2 separate regions of the Homo sapiens genome follow, and region 2 is linked to region 1. Evidence: fine-mapped expression QTL. A gene starts in region 1. The other region holds a variant in brackets. All regions are shown on one strand. Distances are between the middles of the regions.

Evidence for each region.
Region 2: its variant is fine-mapped to the expression of ATP5MJ in whole blood (INTERVAL, PIP above 0.99).

The regions. Positions count from the first base shown.
Region 1 is chr14:103,916,388-103,927,173 of GRCh38, reverse strand. It overlaps ATP5MJ (ATP synthase membrane subunit j), which reads left to right and starts at 5,645. Exons shown (of 4, transcript NM_004894.3): 1 at 5,645-5,704. RefSeq lists silencers at 5,452-5,621, 5,508-5,680 and an enhancer at 5,315-5,990.
Region 2 is chr14:104,067,637-104,078,422 of GRCh38, reverse strand. No RefSeq gene overlaps it. Among named protein-coding and RNA genes, the nearest start is that of ASPG, 13 kb to the left of the region's middle. The variant A/TA (reference allele first, on the strand shown) is at 5,845.

The DNA of each region.
Region 1 (10,786 bases):
TGCTTTTCTTTTTTCTTTTGAGGCAGGGTCTCACTCCTGTCGCTGAGGCTGGAGTGCCGTGCTGCAATCAGGGCTCACTGCAGCCTCAACTTCGGGGGCTCAGGTGATGCTCCCACCACAACCTCCTGCATAGCTGGAACTACAGGCTCACGCCACCACCACACCGGCTAATTTTTTATATTTTTAGTACAGACAGGGGTTTCGCTGTGTTGCCCAGGCCAGTCTCAAGCTCCTGGGCTCAAGCAATCTGTTTGGGAGCCCTTGGCCTCCCAAAGTGTTGAGACTACAAGCATGAACCACCATGCCCAGTCATGTTTTTCAAAAAATAAGAAAAAAGGTAATCATAAAGTAATTGAGACTCATGGTATGTCATTCAGCATTGATTGGAAAATATTGTAACTTCACACTGTATGTGGAGGCTAGGACATAATTCAAAATTTTACAAAATATATTGAAACCACTTGAAGCAACTCCAGAACTCACACTTGTTTTGTTTTGTTTTTTGTTGTTGTTTTGAGACGGAGTCTTGCTCTGTCACCAGGCTGGAGTGCAGTGGCGCGATAGCTCACTGCAACCTCTGCCTCCCAGGTTCAAGCAATTCTCCTGCCTCATCCTCCGGAGTAGCTGGGACTACAAGCATGCACCACCATGGCTGGCTAATTTTTTGTATTTTAGTAGAGACGGGGTTTCACCATGTTGGCTAGGAAGGTCTCAATCTCCTGACCTCATGATCCGCCCGCCTCGGCCTCCCAAAATGCTGGGATCATAGGCGTGAGCCACCGCGCCTGGCCTGTTTTTCTAGGATGTTGCTGTTACCGTGTGCTGTCATCCTTTGTTGATGTCACAATGAATACGATTTTAAGTGGAAGATGCTTTTCAAAAACATTTTCTGGGGGGCATTTTCTATATTCTTTGATCTTTTGGGCTACTAGCTAATCCTTCTGAGTTTTGATTTTTTTTTTAATTGCAATCCAAAGATACTCTCTTGATGCTTCTTTGGAAATTTGCCAATTTGGAAAGTTGCCATAGTGTTTCCTGACCAAACACTAGTTAACATTCTGAATCATCACAGACTGAATGGCTTTGAGCACCTTTCATTTGATTCAGTAGTTCTCGGTGCTCCCAACTCACTTGGTCAAGTTCACCTTGCATTGCTGTCCAAAGTTCAGAGTTAAAAGAAACAGCTTGGGCTGGGCGCGGTGGCTCACGACTGTAATCCCAGCACTTTGGGAGGCTGAGGTGGGCAGATCGTGAGGTCAGGAGTTCAAGACCAGCCTGACCAACATGATGAAACCCCATCTCTACTAAAAATACAAAAATTAGCTGGGTGTAGTGGCGCGCACCTGTAATCCCAGCTACTCGGGAGGCTGAGGCAGGAGAATCGCTCGAACCCAGGAGGTGCAGGTTGCAGTGAGCCAAGATCGCACCACTGCACTCCAGCCTGGGCGGCAGAGCAAGACTCTGTCTCAAAAAAGAAAAAAGAAACAAGAAACAGCTTGACATCAGATAGATCTTCATGGACTTGTCACATCTAGGCCAGAACACATGGGAAGGCCACTGAACCCCTAGTGAGCCATGGTATTTTGGGAAGGTTTTGCATATTTGCATTCACTGAGCATTTGAGCGTCCACCAAAAAGGGGAAACTAACAGCTGAGAGCAGTTACAAATGGTGTTGGTGCCATTCAGCAGCACTCTCCTCAAAGCAGAGGAAGCTGTGCTCGAAGTAGCTTGCTGTCTTCTCCAGCCTTCCTACCACAAGATGCAACATTCTGCACTTTGAATAAATCTGCTGGAGTGGCCCTTTCCTTAAACATTTAGGTTTTTTTGGCCGGGCGCAGTGGCTCACACCGGTAATCCCAGCACTTTGGGGGGCTAAGGCGGGCGGATCACGAGGTCAGGAGATCGACACCATCCTGGCTAACTCGGTGAAAAACCATCTCTACTAAAAATACAAAAAATTAGCCTGGCGTGGTGGCGGGCGCCTGTAGTCCCAGCTACTTGGGAGGCTGAGGCAGGAGAATGGCGTGAACCCGGGAGGCAGAGCTTGCAGTGAGCCAAGATCACGCCACTGTGCTCCAGCCTGGGCGACAGAGCAAGACTCTATCTCAAAAAAAAAAAAAAAAAAAAAAGAAACATTTGGTTGTTTTTTTTTTTTAAGATGTGCGTTTCTTAGGGTGTTTTGGATTTGAAACTAAAGACATTAAAACTCTCTTGGTCTGAGCACAGTGGCTCACGCCTGTAATTCTGACACTTTGAGAGGTCAAGGTGGGAGGATCACTTGAGGCCAGCAGTTCAAGACCAGCCTGGGCAACATAGCAAAGTCTATTGATCTCAAGTCTAGTTGGAAGTTCAGAAGCTCTGTCTTGAAGCAGCTCTCCATGATGTTCTTCCTTAAGTTTTTCCTAAATGCTTGTTCTCGTCCTCAGCAGTGTTATAAGTCATTATAAATCTAAAACTCTAAAACATTTTTACTATAGGACAGTGGTTCTCAAACCTGGTTCTGTCTCAGAACCCCTTTACACTCTTAAAAGTTGCTGAGGACCCTAAAGAGATTTTGTTTATGTGGGTTATGTCTATCAGGGATTACAACTGAGAAATGTTTTTACTTATTTATTTTAAAATGATAAACCCGTTTGATGTTAAACAGTGTATTTTTCTAAAACGTCACTATGTTTTCCAAAAAACATTGTGTGTGTGTGTGTGTGTGTGTGTGTGTGTGAGAGGAATAACACTTTTACATTTTCAAAGATCGCACCACTGCACTCCAGCCTGGGCGACACAGCAAGACTCCATCTCAAAAAAGAAAAAAAATGATTTTAACTGGATCTTGAGCCTTTTATTATTTTATCTTGACACATCTGAGCTCGTTTTCCTTGTGCCTGAATAATGAACATTTATTTTACTGTGGATCTGCTTGTGATTATTTCAGTCCTAGCTGCACCATTTTATAAACCCCCCACCATTTCACAGACCCTGGTCGGAGTGAAACATTCCATGGGGGCTCTGACCATAAGAAACATCCTGCCCAACTGCCTGACTGCGGGAACATCCTTATCACATCCTGCCAGGCAGCAAGCCATACTGCCCAGACCCATCCAGCCCAGACCTATAATTACCCCAGCCTGGAAGCGGCAGTGAGCTCGGGCACTAAACTGGTTATCCGCTCCACGGGTTTTTGCTGGCAATAAACCTGTGTTGCTGTTGAAGCCACCATCTCTCTCCCCTCTCCCCTCCCCCCCTCCCTCTGTGTGTGTGTGTCTGTCTTGTCTGTCTTTAACCCTTGCCTTCCCTTCAAAACCTAATAATTTCCTCTTTTTTTTTTTCCTTTAAAGATGGGATCTTAATACATTGGCCAGGCTGGTCTCAAAATTCTGGGCTCAAGCAGTCCTCCCAAAGTGCTGGGATTACAAGCATGAGCCACCATGCCTAGCACGATTTCCTCTTAGTTTGTCCTTAACTGTCTTTATTTTACCTTCTTTTCTGAATGCCAATTTCCCTGTGTATAGAATTCCCTGTGTATAGAATTCTTGATTGGTGGTTACTTTCTTTGAGATTTTATCTTTATCTTTTCTATGGCTTTATTGTGAGATTTCAAGGTATTGATTTATTTTTATTTATCTGCCTGCTTGGTTTCTGTAAGGCTTTTTGTTTGTTTTTTGTTTTTTGTTTTTGTTTTTGAGACGGAGTCTTGCTCTGTTTCCCTGGCTGGAGTGCAGTGGCGCCATCTCTGCTCACTGCAAGCTCCGCCTCCCGGGCTCACGCCATTCTCTCACTCAGCCTCCGGAGTAGCTGGGACTACAGGCACCCACCACCACACCCAGCTAATTTTTTTGTATTTTTGGTAGAGACGGGGTTTCACCGTGTTAGCCAGGATGGTGTGGTGATCCGCCCGCCTTGGCCTCCTAAAGTGCTGGGATTACAGGCGTAAGCCACCGCGCCTGGCCTCTGTAAGGCTTTTTGAATCTTTGGCATGATTTTTTTCTCATCACTTTTGGAAAATTCTCAGCCATTAGCTCTTCAGATATTTCTGCCTCACCTCTTTAATTTCCTTCTAAGATACCAATTACCCATATGATTGGTATCTTTCCTGCTGTATCCCTCTTATTTTCTGAATGGCTTCTTCGATCTTGCAGTTTATTCTTTAACTGTCTAATCTGCCAAATCCATCCAATTTTTTGTTTTGTTTGTTTGAGACAGAGTCTCGCTCTGTCGCCCAAGCTGGAATACAGTGGCGCCATCTCAGCTCACTGCAGCCTCCACCTCCAGGGTTCAAGCGATTCTCCTGCCTCAGCCTCCCAAGTACCTGGAATTACAGGTGCGCACCACCACCACACCCAGCTAATTTTTGTATTTTTAGTAGAGAAGGGGTTTCACCATGTTAGCCAGGCTGGTCTCAAACTCCTGAACTCAAGCAGTTTGCCTGCTTTGGCCTCCCAAAGTGCTAAGATTACAGATTACAGGCCTCCCAAAGTGCTGAGCCACTGCGCCCAGCCTCCATCCAATTTTTATTTGGCTTTTTTTTTTTTTTTTTTTTTTTTGAGATGGCGTTTCACTCTTGTCGCCCAGGCTGGAGTGCAAAGATCTCGGCTCACTGCAACCCCTGCCCTCCGGGTTCAAGTGATTCTCCTGCCCCAGCTTCCTGAGCAGTTGGGATTACAGGCGCCCACCACCAAGCCCGGCTAATTTTTGTATTTTTAGTAGAGATGGGGTTTCGCCATGTCGGCCAGGCTGGTCTTGAACTCCTGACCTCAGGTGATCCGCTCGCTAAATTTTTTTCTTTTATGATTTCTAGTTCTCTACTGGAAAATATTTCTGAAAAAAAAAATATATATATATATATATATTTTTAAGACTATTAAGCCCAGTGTCTGGAGCCCCTGTGGAAGTTTTATATTATCTGCTGAGAAGAATATGCACAGAATACAGACATAAAAATATGCAGAGCAGGCCGGGCGCGGTGGCTCAAGCCTGTAATCCCAGCACTTTGGGAGGCTGAGGCAGGTGGATCACCTGAGGTCAGGAGTTCAAGACCAGCCTGGCCAACATGGTGAAACCCCGTCTTTGCTAAAAATACAAAAACTAGCTGGGCTTGGTGACCAGCGCCTGTAATCCCAGCTATTCAGGAAGCTGAGGCACGAGAACCGCTTGAACCCGGGAGGCGGAGGTTGCAGTGAGCCGAGATCGCGCCACTGCACTGCAGCGTGGGCGACAGAGTGAGACTCCGTCTCCAAATATATATATTTTATACATGCAGAGCTAAATAATTAACAATAGAAAGGGACAAGACACACCACTGAAATGGGAGACTTGACTTAGTCTTTAACGTCACAGTAAAGAGGGTCCCTTTTCTTAGGTTAACCAACCCTCCCGGTATGTCTAGAACTTTCCTAGTTTCAGCGTTGAAGGTCCCGCGTCCCAGGAAACCCATCAGTCGTGGGAAGATGTGGAGGATTAGCCAGCCCACAGTGACACACGCGGGCACACCCCTAACGCACCCTCTCCCCGCCCCTTCTTGCCTGCGACACCAGGCGGCCGCCGGGGGCGCTGTGGTGCGGAGGCGCCGCTGGGGAGGCACTCTGGCCTTGCGGCGTCTCTGCTGCTTCCGCCTTCCCGGCATCCCCTGCGCGCGCCTGCGCGCTCGGTGACCTTTCCGAGTTGGCTGCAGATTTGTGGTGCGTTCTGAGCCGTCTGTCCTGCGCCAAGGTGAGTACGGGGACCTGGACCTGGCTCCCGAGGTGCGAGACGGCGGGGGCGGGAGGGCGAGAAGCCGCCTTGGCCCCAGCTGATCTTGGGGTTCCACCCCTCCGCCGGCACGCGCCTGCTTTTCTGCCCGGCTTTCCCTTCTCTGAAGGGAGGTAGGCCAGGGTCGGTTGCCAGAGGGAAGCATCGCCTAGGCCTGCGCCGCGTTTCCCTCCTTGGCCTTAACGCGCTCAGTGCACCTGAATTCTCCCACGGTTTTGACAGGGAGCGTACCTTGGCCTTGAGAGGTTCAGCTGCCTAACCCAGAGGCTACGCAGAGTTAGAGAAGCCAGAGTCCAAGCCAAGAACTCTGACTCCACATCCAGTCCCTTCTCTCCTTTATAACTCAAGTTTCCTTGCGCCACACTGCCCTCCACGTTATGCTGTACATGACAACTTGGGTGAGGCAACAGGGAAGCTGAAAAGAGATCATACGGTGCTGAATGAAATTGTATGGAACTCGCGGGTCAGACATTTCCCATTTCCAGTGTCAGGTAATAGTTCGCCCTTAATGTAATGTGCCAAAACTTTGCAGACTTAAGTGGATACAGTAGACACACGTTTGGCCTATGAATAAGATGGATTTTTAAAAGGTCTGGTGCTGTAAAACTGACACACACAGCTAGGAAATGTGCCTGGGCAGAATGGACTCAAGAAAGGGGCCGGCCGGGCGCGGTGGTTCACGCCTGTAATCCCAGCCCTTTGGGAGGCTGAGGCGGGCGGATCACGAGGTCAAGAGATCGAGACCATCCTTACCAACATGGTGAAACGCCGTCTCTACTAAAAATACAAAAATTAGCTGGGTGTGGTGGCAGGCACCTGTAGTCCCAGCTACTCGGGAGGCTGAGGCAGGAGAATCGCTTGCACTCGGTAGGCGGAGGTTGCAGTGAGCCGAGATCGCGCCATTGCATTCCAGCCTGATGACCGAGTGAAACTCCGTCTTAAAAAAAAAAAAAAAAAAAAAAGTAGGGGCTGTCGTTTTATTATGTGTTGGGAATATGTAGCTGGGCGCGGTGGCTCACGCCTGTAATCCCAGCACTTTGGGAGGCCGAGGCGGGCGGATCACGAGGTCAAGAGATCGAGACCATCCTGACTAACACGGTGAAACCCCGTCTTTACCAAAAATACAAAAAATTAGCCCAGTGTGGTGGCACGCGCCTGTAGTCCCAGCTTCCCAGCTACTCAGGAGGCTGAGGCAGGACAATCGCTTGAACCCTGGAGGCGGAGGTTGCAGTGAGCCGAGATCGCGTCACTGCATTCCAGCCTGGGTGACAAAGCGAGACTGTCTCAAAAAAAAAAAAAAAGTAGGGGCCGGACGCGGTGGTTCACGCCTGTAATCCCAGCCCTTTGGGAGGCTGAGGCGGGCGGATCACGAGGTTAAGAGACCGAGACCATCCTGGCCAACATGGTGAAACCCCGTTTCTACTAAAAATACAAAAATTAGCTGGGTGTGGTGGCGGCCTCTTGTAGTCCCAGCTACTCGGGAGGCTGAGGCAGGAGAATCGCTTGCACCCGGGAGGCGGAGGTTGCAGTGAGCCGCGATCGCACCATTGCACTCCAGCCTGATGACCAACTGAAACTCTGTCTAAAAAAAAAAAGGGGGGGCCCTCGTTTTATTATGTATTGGGAACATGTCACTTGTCCAGGCAAATATGGCAACTGAAGTCAAGGGGAAAGGAAGGGAAAGGTATTTGCAAGCTACTGAATAGCAGGCCCCTGTTGCACTGGGGACTAAGGGTAATTTTGTAAGGAGACCATACCAGGGTGCCTGGGCCCGGAGCACAATGTCAGCATGACTCAGTTTCTTTAGTCCCTTCTTACCGTAGTCATTGTACCCTCCCAGTTTACTTTGCCCTTTTCCTTATAGACCCTCATCTTACCTTGTTCTGTCCAAAGCCCCTACCTGGCCTAAATGAGGGCGTCTTTTTAAGCCTTCCTTCTTGTTAGAGTCCCAGTGGCTTAGTATTAATTATAGCCATGAACTGGATATTTGTATCAATTCTGTTACTGCTGTGATCAGTCACTGAATTCTTTTTTTTTTTTTTTTTTTAAGATAAAGGGGGAGTGTCTTGTTGCCCAGGCTGGAGTGCAGTGGCACGATCTTGGCTCACTGCAAGCTCCGCCTCCCGGGTTCAAGCGATTCTCCTGCCTCAGCCTCCCGAGTAGCTGGGATTACAGGCGCCCACCACCATGCCCAGCTAGTTTTTGTATTTTTAGTAGAGATGGTTTCGCCATGTTAGCCAGGCTGGTCTCAAACTACTGACCTTAAGTGATCCGCCCACCTTGGCCTCCCGAGATGCTGGGATTATAGGCGTAAGCCACCGTGCCCAGTCCATTCTCTGGATTTTTATTCCGTACCAGGCACTAGGCACTAGGCTGGGTCCTTTAGGTTTCTCCTTTGTTTTTGTTTTTGAGATGGAGTCTCGCTCTGTCACCCAGGCTGGAGTGCAGTGGTGCAATCTTGGCTCACTGCAAGCTCCGCCTCCCGGGTTCACGCCATTCTCCTGCCTCGGCCTTCCGAGTAGCTGGGACTACAGGCGCCCGCCACCACGCCCGGCTAATTTTTTGTATTTTTAGTAGAGACGGGGTTTCACCGTGTTAGCCAGGATGGTCTTGATCTCCTGACCTCTTGATCTCCCTGCCTTGGACCCCCAAAGTGCTGGAATTACAGGCGTGAGCTACCGCTCCCGGCCTTGGTTTCCTCTTTGAATTGCATTGACAGCCCTCTGGGGGCAGGTGGAGGTATCCCTGTTTCACAGAAAAAGAAACCTCTGGGTTGAGCCTGGTGGCCCACGCCTGTAATCCCTGCACTTTGGGAGGCCGAGGCGGGCAGAACACAAGGTCAGGAGATCGAGACCATCCTGACTAACACAGTGAAACCAAGTCTCTACTAAAAATACAAAAAATTAGCCAGGCGTGGTGGCGGGCACCTGTAGTCCCAGCTACTCGGGAGGCTGAGGCAGGAGAATGGTGTGAACCCGGGAGGCGGAGCTTGCAATGAGCCGAGATCCGCCACTGCACTCCAGCCTGGGTGACAGAGCGAGACTCCGTCTCAAAAAAGAGAAAAAAAAAAACCTCTGAAACAACAGCTAAAGGGACTTGCCCACAGTTGAGAGCTGACCAGGCAGAGCTGGTGTTGGAGCCCAGGATTCCCAGGCTTCCAAACCCATCGGTCCTGTAGAATGCTTCCTTCCCAGTCGTTGCTGAGAGACAAGGGATTCACTCCATGCCTCTGAACTCCTAGTCTGGGGCTTCCAGAAACCTCCTCTGGGTCTTGTTTGGATCATCTGTGACATATTCCCAAAGCAGGGCTGTTCGTTTCTTGGAACCTCACACTGTCAGAGCATTCGAGTAGCTTGAGGACAGGAAATTTGAGGGCGGACTATCTGCAAGGTGTTCCAGGAGAAGGACACAGTCGCATCCTGCAAGGTCAGACCTCAGGCCACCCTCACGACCATCCTTGCCTAAATAAGTCCTCTCATAGGGAAGAGCAGGAAAGCAGGTGTTGGAGGTAGGTTCTCGTCATCAGGAGCATGACGTACAGATTTGGTGTGAGTGCAGTCCTGCTAACCTGCTGCGGGATCCGAGTACCCGCTTTATAGGAGCTTTCTCCAAGTACCCACTTTATAGGAGTGGGAAGCAGTGTAGGAAGTAAGTACGAAAAGCACTTTTAAAATGCTGTTAAAGGGCTAGAGACAGAACTAACCACAATCAGGGCAGTCCCTGCTGTAGCTCCGGCCTGGCCTCCCCATTCTTGCCTGACTCAAGACACTAACTTAGTTCCTGGTTCGGTGCCCTGTTGGTGCTCCTCTGTCCAGTAGCTTAGCTCCCACGGTGGGGGAGGAATCGAAGGGGCTCTGCAGCCCCCACCAGCTGCCCTCGAATCCCATCCAGGCCAGTTCCAGATTCTAAACTGAATTTTCTTCATATTGTCAAAACGGGAAACAAAAAAACCCTAAAGCAAAAAAAAAAAAAGTTGTTAAATTTAGAGAACAGTTTTAGAATAAAAGCTAAATTCTATGCTAGCCTCCAAGGCCCTTAAATGACATGGCCCATCTTCCTTCCCATAGTCCAGCCATGGTATTTTATGTAACAAGCATTTAATATACAGTACCAGACACTCAACATTTGACATAGAGTTATTCTATGTTATTCTCCATAACAACCCCTTGAGGTGGATCCTGTTTTTATCCCTGTTTTACAGATGAGAAAACTTAAGCGGTTTAAGTTAGCTAGTAAGTGACAGCCAGGATTTGAATCTGGCACTGTGGCCTCCCTATTCCTTCCAGCTCTCCGAGTTCATTCTGACCTCGGAGTCTCTGCCAATGCCGAGGATTCCTCTCCCAGATATCCTGACCCTTTATTGTTTCTCAGCTCCTAAAACAATGTCTGGCACCTAGTACATGCTCAGTGCACATTTGCCAAGTGAATAAATGACCACACGATCCGGGTTTCAGTGATTTGAGGGCCGCCATTTGACCTTTGACTAGGTTGGGCTTGTGAAGGATTCAGTGCGGTAAAGCTGACACACACAGCTGCGCAGTGTGGGAAAGGGAGCACACTGCCGAGCATTCGGATTCTTTGGATCCTGAGCAGTGATGTGAAAGGAGCAGTGAGTGGGTGGAGGGAGGGAGGGGTGGAGGCAGCATTACAGCCGCAGCCAACGCGCAGTTCTTTCTTTCTTTTTTGAGACAGAGTCTCACTTTGTCACCCAGGCTGCAGTGCAGTGGTGTGATCATGGCTTACTGCATCTTCAACCACCCAAGCTCAAGCAGTCTTCCCACCTCAGTCTTCCAATAGCTGTGACTAACATAAAAAATTAGCCAGGCAAGCACCACCACACCTGGTTAATTTTTTATGTTTTGTAGAGACGGGGTCTCCCTATGTTACCCAAATTAGTCTCGAGCTCCTGGACTCAAGTGACCCTCCCACATCAGCCTCCCAAAGCGCTGGGATTACAGGCATGAGCCACCACACCCAACCAAAGCAGTTTCCAAGTGAAATGAGAAGTGCTTAGATCTAGTCACTCCTGACAGCTATTTGACT
Region 2 (10,786 bases), 150 kb before region 1:
GGGCAGAAACATGTCTAAAGAACATAGGAAGAGAAGATGTGCAGCAGCCTCTAGGATCAAGGACAACACCCATGGGAGGAAGAAACTTGGAACAGCCCTGCTCCCACACCCAGAATGAGACTCAGACCTCTTCGGAGAGAGAGTGGCTGAGGCCACGGAATGGCCAGAGGTGCAAAGGCTGGGCCTGGAGGCAGGAAACTGCTTATTGCTGAGAGGTGCTGGGAGGCCACCTGCTGGCAAGCAGCACCAGAAACAGGAAGAGTAGTTCCGCTCCTCCTGCAGTGTCCCTCCAGTGCCCTCTGCCGGCAACGCCTAACATTGCATCAGCTGGGAAAGAAGAAATGTTTACAGTCTAGCTCCAGGACGCCAGACGAAAGAAGGATGGATTGAGGGCTGAGAGAGAAAAGCTCCAACTAGCACGGAATGTAAGTATTACAACCGCTTTAGAAAATTTGGTAGTTTCTTACAAGATTAAACGACCACCTGCTCAATGACCCAGTAATCCCACAACTCCTCGGTATTTACCCAAGAGAAACAAAAATCTATCTACAGACTTGTTCACAGAAATTTTATTCATAATAGGTAAAAAGTGAAAACAATCCAATGCCCATCAGTAGACGAACAAAGAATAAAGTGTGTGTGTGTGTGTGTGTGTGTGTGTGTGTGTGTGTGTGTGCGTGGTTTGAGATGGAGTCTTGCTCTGTCGCCCAGGCTGCAGTGCAGTGGCACAATCTCAGCTCATTGCAACCTCTGCCTCCTGGGTTCAAGCAGTTCTCCTACCTCAGCCTCCGGAGTAGCTGTGATTACAGGGGCCGATCACCACCACGTCTGGCTAATTTTTGTATTTTTAGGAGAGACGAGGTTTCACCATGTTGGCCAGGCTGGTCTCGAACTCCTGCCCTCAGGTGACCCACTCACCTTAGCTTCCCAAAGTGCTGGGATTACAGGCATAAGCCACCATGCCCAGCCAAGAAACTGGTATATTTATACAATAGAAAACAAAAGAACAAATTATTGACTTAAACGTGTATCTTGGTCTGTTTTGTGCTGCTATAACATAAATAAACCTCAAACAAACATTATATTGAGCAAAAGCAGCCTGATACAAAACATTACATACTGTAGGATTCCATTTACATGAACTTTTACAACAATCAAAACTAATCTATAGGCTGGTCACGGTGGCTCACGCCTGTAATCCCAGCATTTTTGGGGGCCAAGGCAGGCAGATCACTTGGGGTCAGGAGTTTGAGACCAGCCTGACCAACATGGTGAAACCTTGTCTCTACTAAAAATACAAAAATTAGCCAGGCATGGTGGCATGAGCCTGTAGCCCCAGCTACTTGGGAGGCTGAAGCTGGAGAATTGCTTGAACCTGGGAGGCGGAGGCTGCAGTGAGCCGAGATCACGCCACTGCACTCCAGTCTGGGTAACAGAACAAGACACTGTCTCAAAACAAAACAAATCTATAGTGAAAGTAATCAGAAGGGCGGTTGTATCTATGGGAACTTCCTGTGGTGATGGAAATACTGTTATCCTAGCAGCGGTGTGGTCACATGGGTGTATCAATTCATCAATGCTATATCTGCACTATAATTCAGATCTGTACATTTCTCTGCAAATTATGCCTCAAACAATTTTAAAGGGGAAACAAGAATCTCTAATCTACAGCTATGTGAAAAAAGGAGGAGGGAACACAGACTATCAATGCTGAAGTTCTATTTCTTACCCTAAACTATCCTTTAGTCTTATACCATCCCAAATCAAAAGTTGTTACAATGAACCTAAATGAGCAGTAACAACAAAACTCTTAATCTAACAGTTCTCCAAACTCTTTTTCTTGTAAGCAAACTCTGAGAATGTTATTAGAACTTGTTTATTTCTCCATTGGTTCATATTACTCAGGCTTACATGTGTAGCTAGGATGGGCAAATGTAAGCATACTTTCTCTTTTTCATTTTTTTGAGACAAGGTCTCACTCTGTCACCCAGGTTGGAGTGCAGTGGCACGATCATAGCTCACTGCAGCCTCAAACTCCTGGGCTCAAGCAATCCTCCCACCTCAGCCTCCCAAGTAGCTGGGACTACAGGCACACACCACCACACCTGGCGATTTTATTTTTCTGCAGATGGGGGTCTCACTGTATTGCCCAGACTGGTCTCAAACTCCCAGGCTCAAGCCATCCTCCTGCCTTGGCCTCCCAAAGTGCTGGGATTACAGGCATGAACCACCATGCCCAGTGTCTTTTTAAACTTTTGTTTGATAGATTTAGGGGGTACAGATGCAGTCTTGTTACATGGATATGTTGCCTAGTAAAGTCTGGACTTTTAATGTAACTGTCACTCTAATAAAAGTATACATTCTACCCAATAGGTAATTTCTCATCCCTCACCCCCATCCCACCCTTCCACCTTTTCCAAATTCTTTCTAAATATGCCTCACAAAGTTGGAAGAAGCTATGCTTTCTTAACTTGCCATTATTTCTCATCGATGTTTCCAATTGTTGGGGGTTTTCTTCAGTTCTCAGGTATTTGCTTCTATTGATAGTTTGCGAGCTAGTATTTAGAGAAACTTCACCTTTTGCCTACAAAGTCAAAAGCTGCAGGAGAAACTTCACCTTTTGCCTACAAAGTCAAAAGCTGCAGAGGCAAAACCTGCAGTTCTGAGAGAAACGGGCTAGATGGCAGTGCTGTTCTCAGTGACATTTCTCAATTTACGAGGGGAAAAAACATCCCCTAGTCTTGAACGGGTTTACTAAAGCCCACGTATAAGGATCTCATTATAAAATACAATTTAAGCAGAAAATATTATGTAAGTGATTCTATGCCCCTTTCTAATTACAGATCTTCAGAAACACAGTCTAACCTGAGAGACTCCCCTAAAGTCTTTGCCAGTCAGATTTCCGCATTATACTACTGCCATGTGCCACATCATGACATTCTGGTCAACAGACCACCTAGAGGACAGTGGTTCCATAAGATGATACTATATTTTTCTTGTACTTTTCCATGTTTAGATACTTACCAATGTGTTACAATTGCCTACAGTAGGCCGGGCACGGTGGCTCACACCTGTAATCCCAGCACTTTGGGAGGCCAAGGCGGGTGGATCATGAGGTCAGGAGATCAAGATCATCCTGGCTAACATGGTGAAGCCCCGTCTCTACTAAAAATATAAAAAATTAGCCTTGCATGGTGGTGGGCACCTGTAGTCTCAGTTACTCAGGAGGCTGAGGCAGGAGAACGGCGTGAACCCAGGAGGCAGATCTTGCAGTGAGCCAAGATTGCACCACTGCACTCCAGCCTGGGCGAAAGTGCGAGACTCCCTCTCAAAAACAAACAAACAAACAAACAAAATTGCCTCCAGTATTCGGTAGTCACATGCTGCAGAGGTTCTTAGTAGAGGAATAGGCTCCACCAGATAGCCTAGGTGTGTCATACGCTGTACCATCTAGGTTTGTCTAAGTGTACTCCATGACGTTCACACAACAAAATCGCCTAATGGCACAGTTCTCAGAACGTATCCCTGTCAAGTGACACACGACTGCACTTCTCTGAGGTTATAATGGCATCTTTCTCTTGCTTAAAAAGCCTTTTCAAATGAATGTACTAAGATCTTCCAAATACAAAAGTGAATCCAGAGAATAATCAAGAACCTGCCTAAAGGCCGTAGTACTTCCTCGCCCCAGTATTTCATTACAGCATTTGCTACTGTGCCCTAGTTTCTCAGTGAGTCTTAACGTGGCATCAGGAACTGGGTCATGTACATCTTCTGTCTTCCTTAGAGTGGTTACTTTATGGTGGAGAGAGAAGATGCTTAATAAATGCTTTGTTACCTGAATTCCGATTATTGAGATACTGCCTGTGCTTCTAAATGGAAGCAAGCCTGAACTTTTCAGAGTAGAAAGTAGGTTTTGGTTAAGTTACTTTGAGCTTAGGCAATTCTGAATAAATAGCCTGGAAGCAAATATACACGACCACATGCGGTCTAGGATACCTCATTTACTGTGGTCTCTTAATTCCCACTTTTAATACTCCATCTGCAGCTTAGCACTTTGTGATTGAATGTGTATTCTTTTGACTTCTTGGGTTTTTTAGTACATACTGTTTTAAACAGGAACTATGGCTGCTTATAACACAGACCAAACCTAACAGAGGCTTTAAAAAGTTAATTTCTCTCCCACATAAAAGAAGTCTCCAGGTAGGCAGTCCAGGCTGGTGGGATGGCTCTATGGTTGAGAGGAACCCAGATTCTGCCATTGTTTGTCAATGGTTTCCATTCTTAAGGTCCCCTCAAAGTTGAAGATGGCTGCTCAAGCACCAGCCATCATGTGTGCACTCCAGGGAAGCAGGAAGACATCTAAAGGAATGAAAGGGCCCAGCGGTAACCTGTCTCCCTTTTAAGGGAGGAGGCTTTAACCACTTCCTGCTTTCATCTCATTGGTCAGAACTAGCCACATGGCCATGCCTAGCTGCAAGAGATGCTGGGAAACGTAATCTCGTAGGTAAACACACTGCTGCCTTCTCAAGAGAACCAGGTTCTGTTACAGAACAGAAAAGGGGGAAAAACAGTATAAATTCTGCCACAGATAACAACTCATGGATTTATGTATTTTTGGTGAGTAAGTGTGATCAGATGCATGCATTGGCATAATCGTGTTCCCATCTATCCATGGCTCCCTCTCTCCCTTTACCCTCATTACCACCCAGTTCCATCATCTCCCACCTTGGATGACCGAGGTCATTATCTAGAACATCCTTCCACGTTGTTCTCTGTGCTCTTAATCCCATCCCGACATGCACAAGCACATACACACTTACACAGATACATCTATGTGCGTTTTCTGGTTACTGAATTTTTTTTTTCCACAGTCTTACTCTGTTGCCCAGGCTGGAGTGCAGTGGCACAATCGCGGCTCACTGCAACCTCCACCTCCCGGGTTCAAGTGATTTTCCTGCCTCATCCTCCCAAGTAGCTGGGATTACAGGCACGTGCCACCATGCCCAGCTAATTTTTTGTATTTTTAGTAGGGATGGGGTTTCACCATGTTGGCTGGGCTGGCCTTGAACTCCTGACCTCAAGTGATCTGCCTACCTCAGCCTCCCAAAGTACTGGGATTACAGGTGTGAGCCATTGCACCCAGCCTGGTTACTGATTTTTAGGAAGATATTACGCACACTTTTGCATCTTTCTTTCTCACTTGCCGTATCTTGTGGACATCTTTTCAGGCCAACAGCTGTAACTCTCACCTCACTCTTCACATGGCTGCACGGTATTTCTTGACATTGACTGCTATAACATGTTTACCGTTTCCTTTTGTGTGACATTCATCATTTCTAGTGTTCAGTTATTACACTGTACAGTTGTCCTGACATATCTAAGTCAAAGGATATGCCTGTTTTTAATTTTCCCAGATGTTGCCAGATTGACTTCCAAAAGAAACTTTAAGACTTCATACATTTACCAGCAATATGCAAGTATTTCTTCCCTCCACCTCCCCAACAACAAGCCATACAGCTCTTTTTAAAATCTTGCCAGTCTATAAAGCTCACTGATTTATGATTCCCTTACTACTAAGGAATTTGAGCATTTTCACGTGTTAGTCATTTGGACAGTTATTCATATCATTGTCGTGGTTTCCTGTTTGACTCTTGTGCTCTTCCCTGACAATTTTTTAAAATTTTATTTCTCAGAGTCTTGCTGTCACTCAGGTTAGAATGCAGTGGTGTATTCATGGCTCACTGCAGCCTCAAACTCTTGGGCTCAAGCAATCCTCCCGCCTCAGCCTCCTGAGGTACTGGGACTACAGGCACTCACCACCTGTAACTTTTTTTTTTTTTTTTT[A/TA]AGACATCAGGTCTCAGTCGGGCACGGTGACTCACACATGTAATCCCAGCACTTTGGGAGACCAACGCAGGCAGATCACTTGAGGTCAGGAGTTCGAGACCAGCCTAGCCAACATGGTGAAACCCCATCTGTACTAAAAAAAAATACAAAAATTAGCCAGGCGTGGTGGTGGGCACCTATAATCCCAGCTACTCAGGAGGCTGAGGCACAAGAATCACTTGAACCCGGGAGGCAGAGGTTGCAGTGAGCCGAGATCACACCACTGCACTCCAGCCTGGGTGACAGAGTGAGACTCCATCTTAAAAAAAAAAAAAAAAGAGGGAGAGAGAAAGAGATCAGGTCTTACTGTGATCTTGAACTCCTGACTTCAAGCAATTCTCCTGCTTTGGCCTCCCAAAGTGCTGGGAATACAAGTGTGAGCCACCACTCCCAGCCTTGCCTGACAATTTTTAAAAAGGTTTTTGTGTATACATATTAACCCTTTGTTGTTTACATCAATCTATGCAATCTAACCTATCCACTGATTGGTTATGGTATCTTTTGCTATATGAGGTTTTTAAAATGTTATATCGCCAAACATGGGTATCTTTTGCCATATGGAGTTTTAATGCTTATGTATTCAAATATGTTTGTATCTTTTTACATGGCTTCTGATTTTCCAATCTAGGTTAATATTACCTAAAATGTGCATACAGTAGAATTCTATTCTTAGGCATTTATTCATCTCCACAAATTTTAAGATACTTTTTATCCAATTCCCAAAAGACACTGTTGAGATTCTAATTGGAATTACATTTTCGTATTAACTTGGGAGAGTTGACAAAAGTTATATGAAATCTTCTCAGCTGCGCTTTTTCAGCCATCTGGATTTTACGTCTTTTTTTTTTTTTTTTTTTTTTTTTTGAAACAGAGTTTCGCTCTTGACATCCAGGCTGGAGTGCAGTGGTGCAATCTCAGCTCACTGCAACCTCCATCTCCTGGGTTCAAGCAATTCTCCTGCCTCTGCCTCCTGAGTAGCTGGGATTACAGGCTCATGTCACCACACCCAGCTAATTTTTGTATTTTCAGTAGAGATGGGGTTTCACCACGTCAGGCCAGGCTGGTCTCGAACTCCTGACCTCAGGTGATCTGCCCACCTCGGCCTCCCAAAGTGCTGGGATTACAGGCGTGAGCCACTGCACCTGGCCAATTTTATGTCTTTCAATAAGATCTCAGTTTTCTTCACTTAGGGATAGGTCCTACACCTTTATTCTAAAACATCTTATTTTTTTTCACCACATACATAGAATGTCTTTTGTTTTGTTTTGTTTGCTTGTTTTTTTGAGATGGAGTCTCGCTCTGTTGCCCAAGCTGGAGTGCAGTGAATCTCAACAGTGTCTTTTGGGAATTGGATAAAAAGTATCTTAAAATTTGTGGAGATGAATAAATGCCTAAGAATAGAATTCTACTGTATGCACATTTTAGGTAATATTAACCTAGATTGGAAAATCAGAAGCCATGTAAAAAGATACAAACATATTTGAGTACATAAGCATTAAAACTCCATATGGCAATCTTGGCTCACCGCAAGCTCCGCCTCCCAGGTTCACGCCATTCTCCTGCCTCAGGCTCCCGAGTAGCCGGGACTACAGGTGCCCGCAACAACGCCTGGCTAATTTTTTGTATTTTTAGTAGAGATGGGGTTTCACCGTGTTAGCCAGGATGGTCTTGATCCCCTGCCCTCGTGATCCACCCACCTCGGCCTCCCAAAGTGCTGGGATTACAGGCATGAGCCACCGCGCCTGGCCACACAGAATGTTTTCTCCATTGCTAGGTTCTTATTGCCACAGCGGAGAAGCCCATGGCTTTTGTATCTTTAGCTTATATCCAGAAGCCTTAGCAAAATATGTTATTATAGCAGGGGGTCTTCTAGGTTATGCAGAAAAAGAATTCACACAGCAAGCCCAAGATTGCACTCCTTAGAAAGGTCTGCTTCCAAAGTTGGCCCTTGATTGGCAGCCGGGAGCCTGAATTTTAGGAGGGTTCCCACCATTCTCTGACATGGGTGTCTCACTGTGCCTCAACTATTTGAACAAACAATGTGGTCTACACTGAACTGGGAGTCTGTAATTTTGGCACATGCTAGGCAGAGGGTTCCTACATGACCAGTCCCCAATAAAAACATGGGCACTGAGATTCTGATGAGCTTCCCTGGCACACACACTTCACCCACATTATCACAACATGCTGTGGACAAACTAAGAATGTCCTGTGTGACTCCCCCAGCAGAGGACCTGATTTTCTCTGGACTTCATCCCGTGTCTTTTCCCTGTGATTTTCTCTGCATCCTTTCACGATAGTAAATCTCACCCATGAGCACAACTGCATGCTAAGTCCTACAAGTCCTGGTGAATTACTGAACCTGGGGTGGACTTGGGTATCCTCAACACGTGTACACATCAGAGCAGCAAAAAGAGCTTTCTCTCTTCTTGTCTAATGTTACGTCGGTTATTTCATCTTTCTTTTCTCATTATAATTTCGGGCCTTCAAGTGATTGTTAAGTAACAGGAAGAGTACACATCCCTGACCAGTTTCTAATTTTAACTGAAATGGCTTTAATGTTTTGCCACTTAAAAGAACGTTTACCATTATTTTTTGATTTTCATCACATTTCAGTATGGGTAGTCCTTACTTTACACAGCTGTGATATGCACGCATTTCTGTTACCATAGTTCAGTAACAAAGCCCCCCCCCCCAACAGCACAATTCAAGTACCGGTCTCCCTGGCATACAACCGTGAGAAACCGCACGAAGAGTAAACTGTGCTGCCAACTCTTCAACCCACAAATGTGCAAATCACAGGTGTGCATCAGATCAGGAACCCATCCCGACACTTCTTTCAAAGCCCATCAGGAATTGATCACTGAGCACCTGTTATTCAGCTCACACAGAAAAGTTTGTTGCCTCCTTGCCTCCCAGTGATAAGCCCACACGACAGTTTATGAAAATGGAAAGAGGGAACCAACCCACAAAGGTGAAAATGCAGCAAAGAAATGAAATGTGACAACCCTGGAAGTGACATTTGAATGAAACCTAAGTGAGGTCACAGAGAAAACAGCTGAGGGAGGGAACGTGGACGCTGCTGCCAACCAGGGGCTCCAGCGGTGCAGCCAGAGAGGCTGAGAGGGGGCAGCCTGTCTGCGTAAATGAGTGTATTAAGGTGCTCTAAAGGGACAGAACTAATAGGATGTACGTATATACAAAGGGGAGTTTATTAAGGAGTATTGACTCCCACAATCACAAGGTGAAGTCCCACAATAGGCCGTCTGCAAGCTGAGGAGCCAGGAAGCCAGTCCGAGTCCCAAAACCCTCAAAGCAGGGAAGACAACAGTGCAGCCTTGTCTGTGACCAGAGGCCCAAGAGTCCCTGGCAAACCGCTGGTGTAAGTCCAAGAGCCCAAAAGCTAAAGAACTTGGAACATCCAACACGGGAGAAAGATGAAGGCTGGAAGACAGTAAGTCTCTCTCATTCCACTTTCTTCTGCCTGCTTTACTTTAGCCACGCTGGCAGCTGATGAGATGGTGCCCACCCAGATGGAGGGTGGGTCTGCCTCTCCCAATCCGCTGATTCAATGTGAGTCTCCTTTGGCAACACCCTCACAGACACACCCAGGATCAATACTCTGCATCCTTCAATCCAATCAAGTTGACACTCAGTATTAATCTTCACAATGAGCAAACAGTTGTGACGAGAAGGATGAAGACAGCCTCGGGGGTGTGACGCCAGCAAAAAACCGCAAATGAAAGGAACTCTGGGAGGCATTTTGCAACACGGGATGTGCAAATGATACAGTGTTGGAAGCCGATCCAACTAGAAAGGAGCGTGGCAACTCAACAGGCCCCGGAGAAGATGCTCGGCCAGAAGCCCAGAAGCGGAAGTTGTAGGAAGAGGCAGTGGCGGCAAGTGCTGTTTAAACTACTATTGACGGGACTTTAGAAAGAGACAAAATGCTTTAATCCCAATGTTTCTAGTGTTTCAAATCACAGTGTGCTAAATACATTAGTTTTACTGCTCTTTTCATTTCTCTACACATTTGTAACCAATAACAAACAGTGGGAGTTTTTACTGTACTGCTTCACAGGTGATGGAGCAGCTGCTTCTCAGTAGGATTGCTCTGCACAGTTTCGGCTTGCAGAACCACCATTTTTATGATGCTGGCCCTCCATGCAATGCAAAAACTACTGTAGCTTTTTCCTATTTCTATTTTACATGTTTTATTTCTTCTTTTAAGTTAGGAATGGGTGCTGAACCTCAAATGGATCCCTTTTCAGTATCCGCTGATAGCCACATATGATTTTCCCACGGCATCTACATGGGGCTTGGCCAATGATTCTGGCTACAGGTGAAGTTCACAAGACAGCTGCAGGAGCACATCCAGGCTTGACTAGAGGCCTCGTACACCTGCTGCTGCTCAGAGGTGCATTGAGAAAAAACCTATGGCTGCAGGGTGAAGAATAAGAGAAGAGGCAGCAATTCGAAATTAGGAAACTCCATCTACAAGGCACCCTGACTCCAAAATCACAACCCTGTTGATATGGTTTGGCTCTGTGTCCCCACCCAAATCTCATGTTGCACAGTAATCCCTAATGTTGGGGGAGGGACCTGGTGGGAGGTGATTGGATCCTGGGGGTGGATTCCCCCTTGCTGTTCTCGTGATAGTGAGTTCTCACTAGATCTGGTTGTTTAAAAGGATGTAGCACCTCCCCCTTCACCCTCTCTCTTCTGCTCCACCATGTGAAGATTGTACCTGCTTCCCCTTCACCTTTCTCTATGATTCTAAGTTTCCTGAGATCTCCCCAGCCATGCTTCCTGTACAGCCTGCAGAACCATGGGCCAATTAAATGTCTATTATCAATAAATTACCCAGTTCCAGGTATGTCTTTAGAGCAGTGTGAGAACAAAT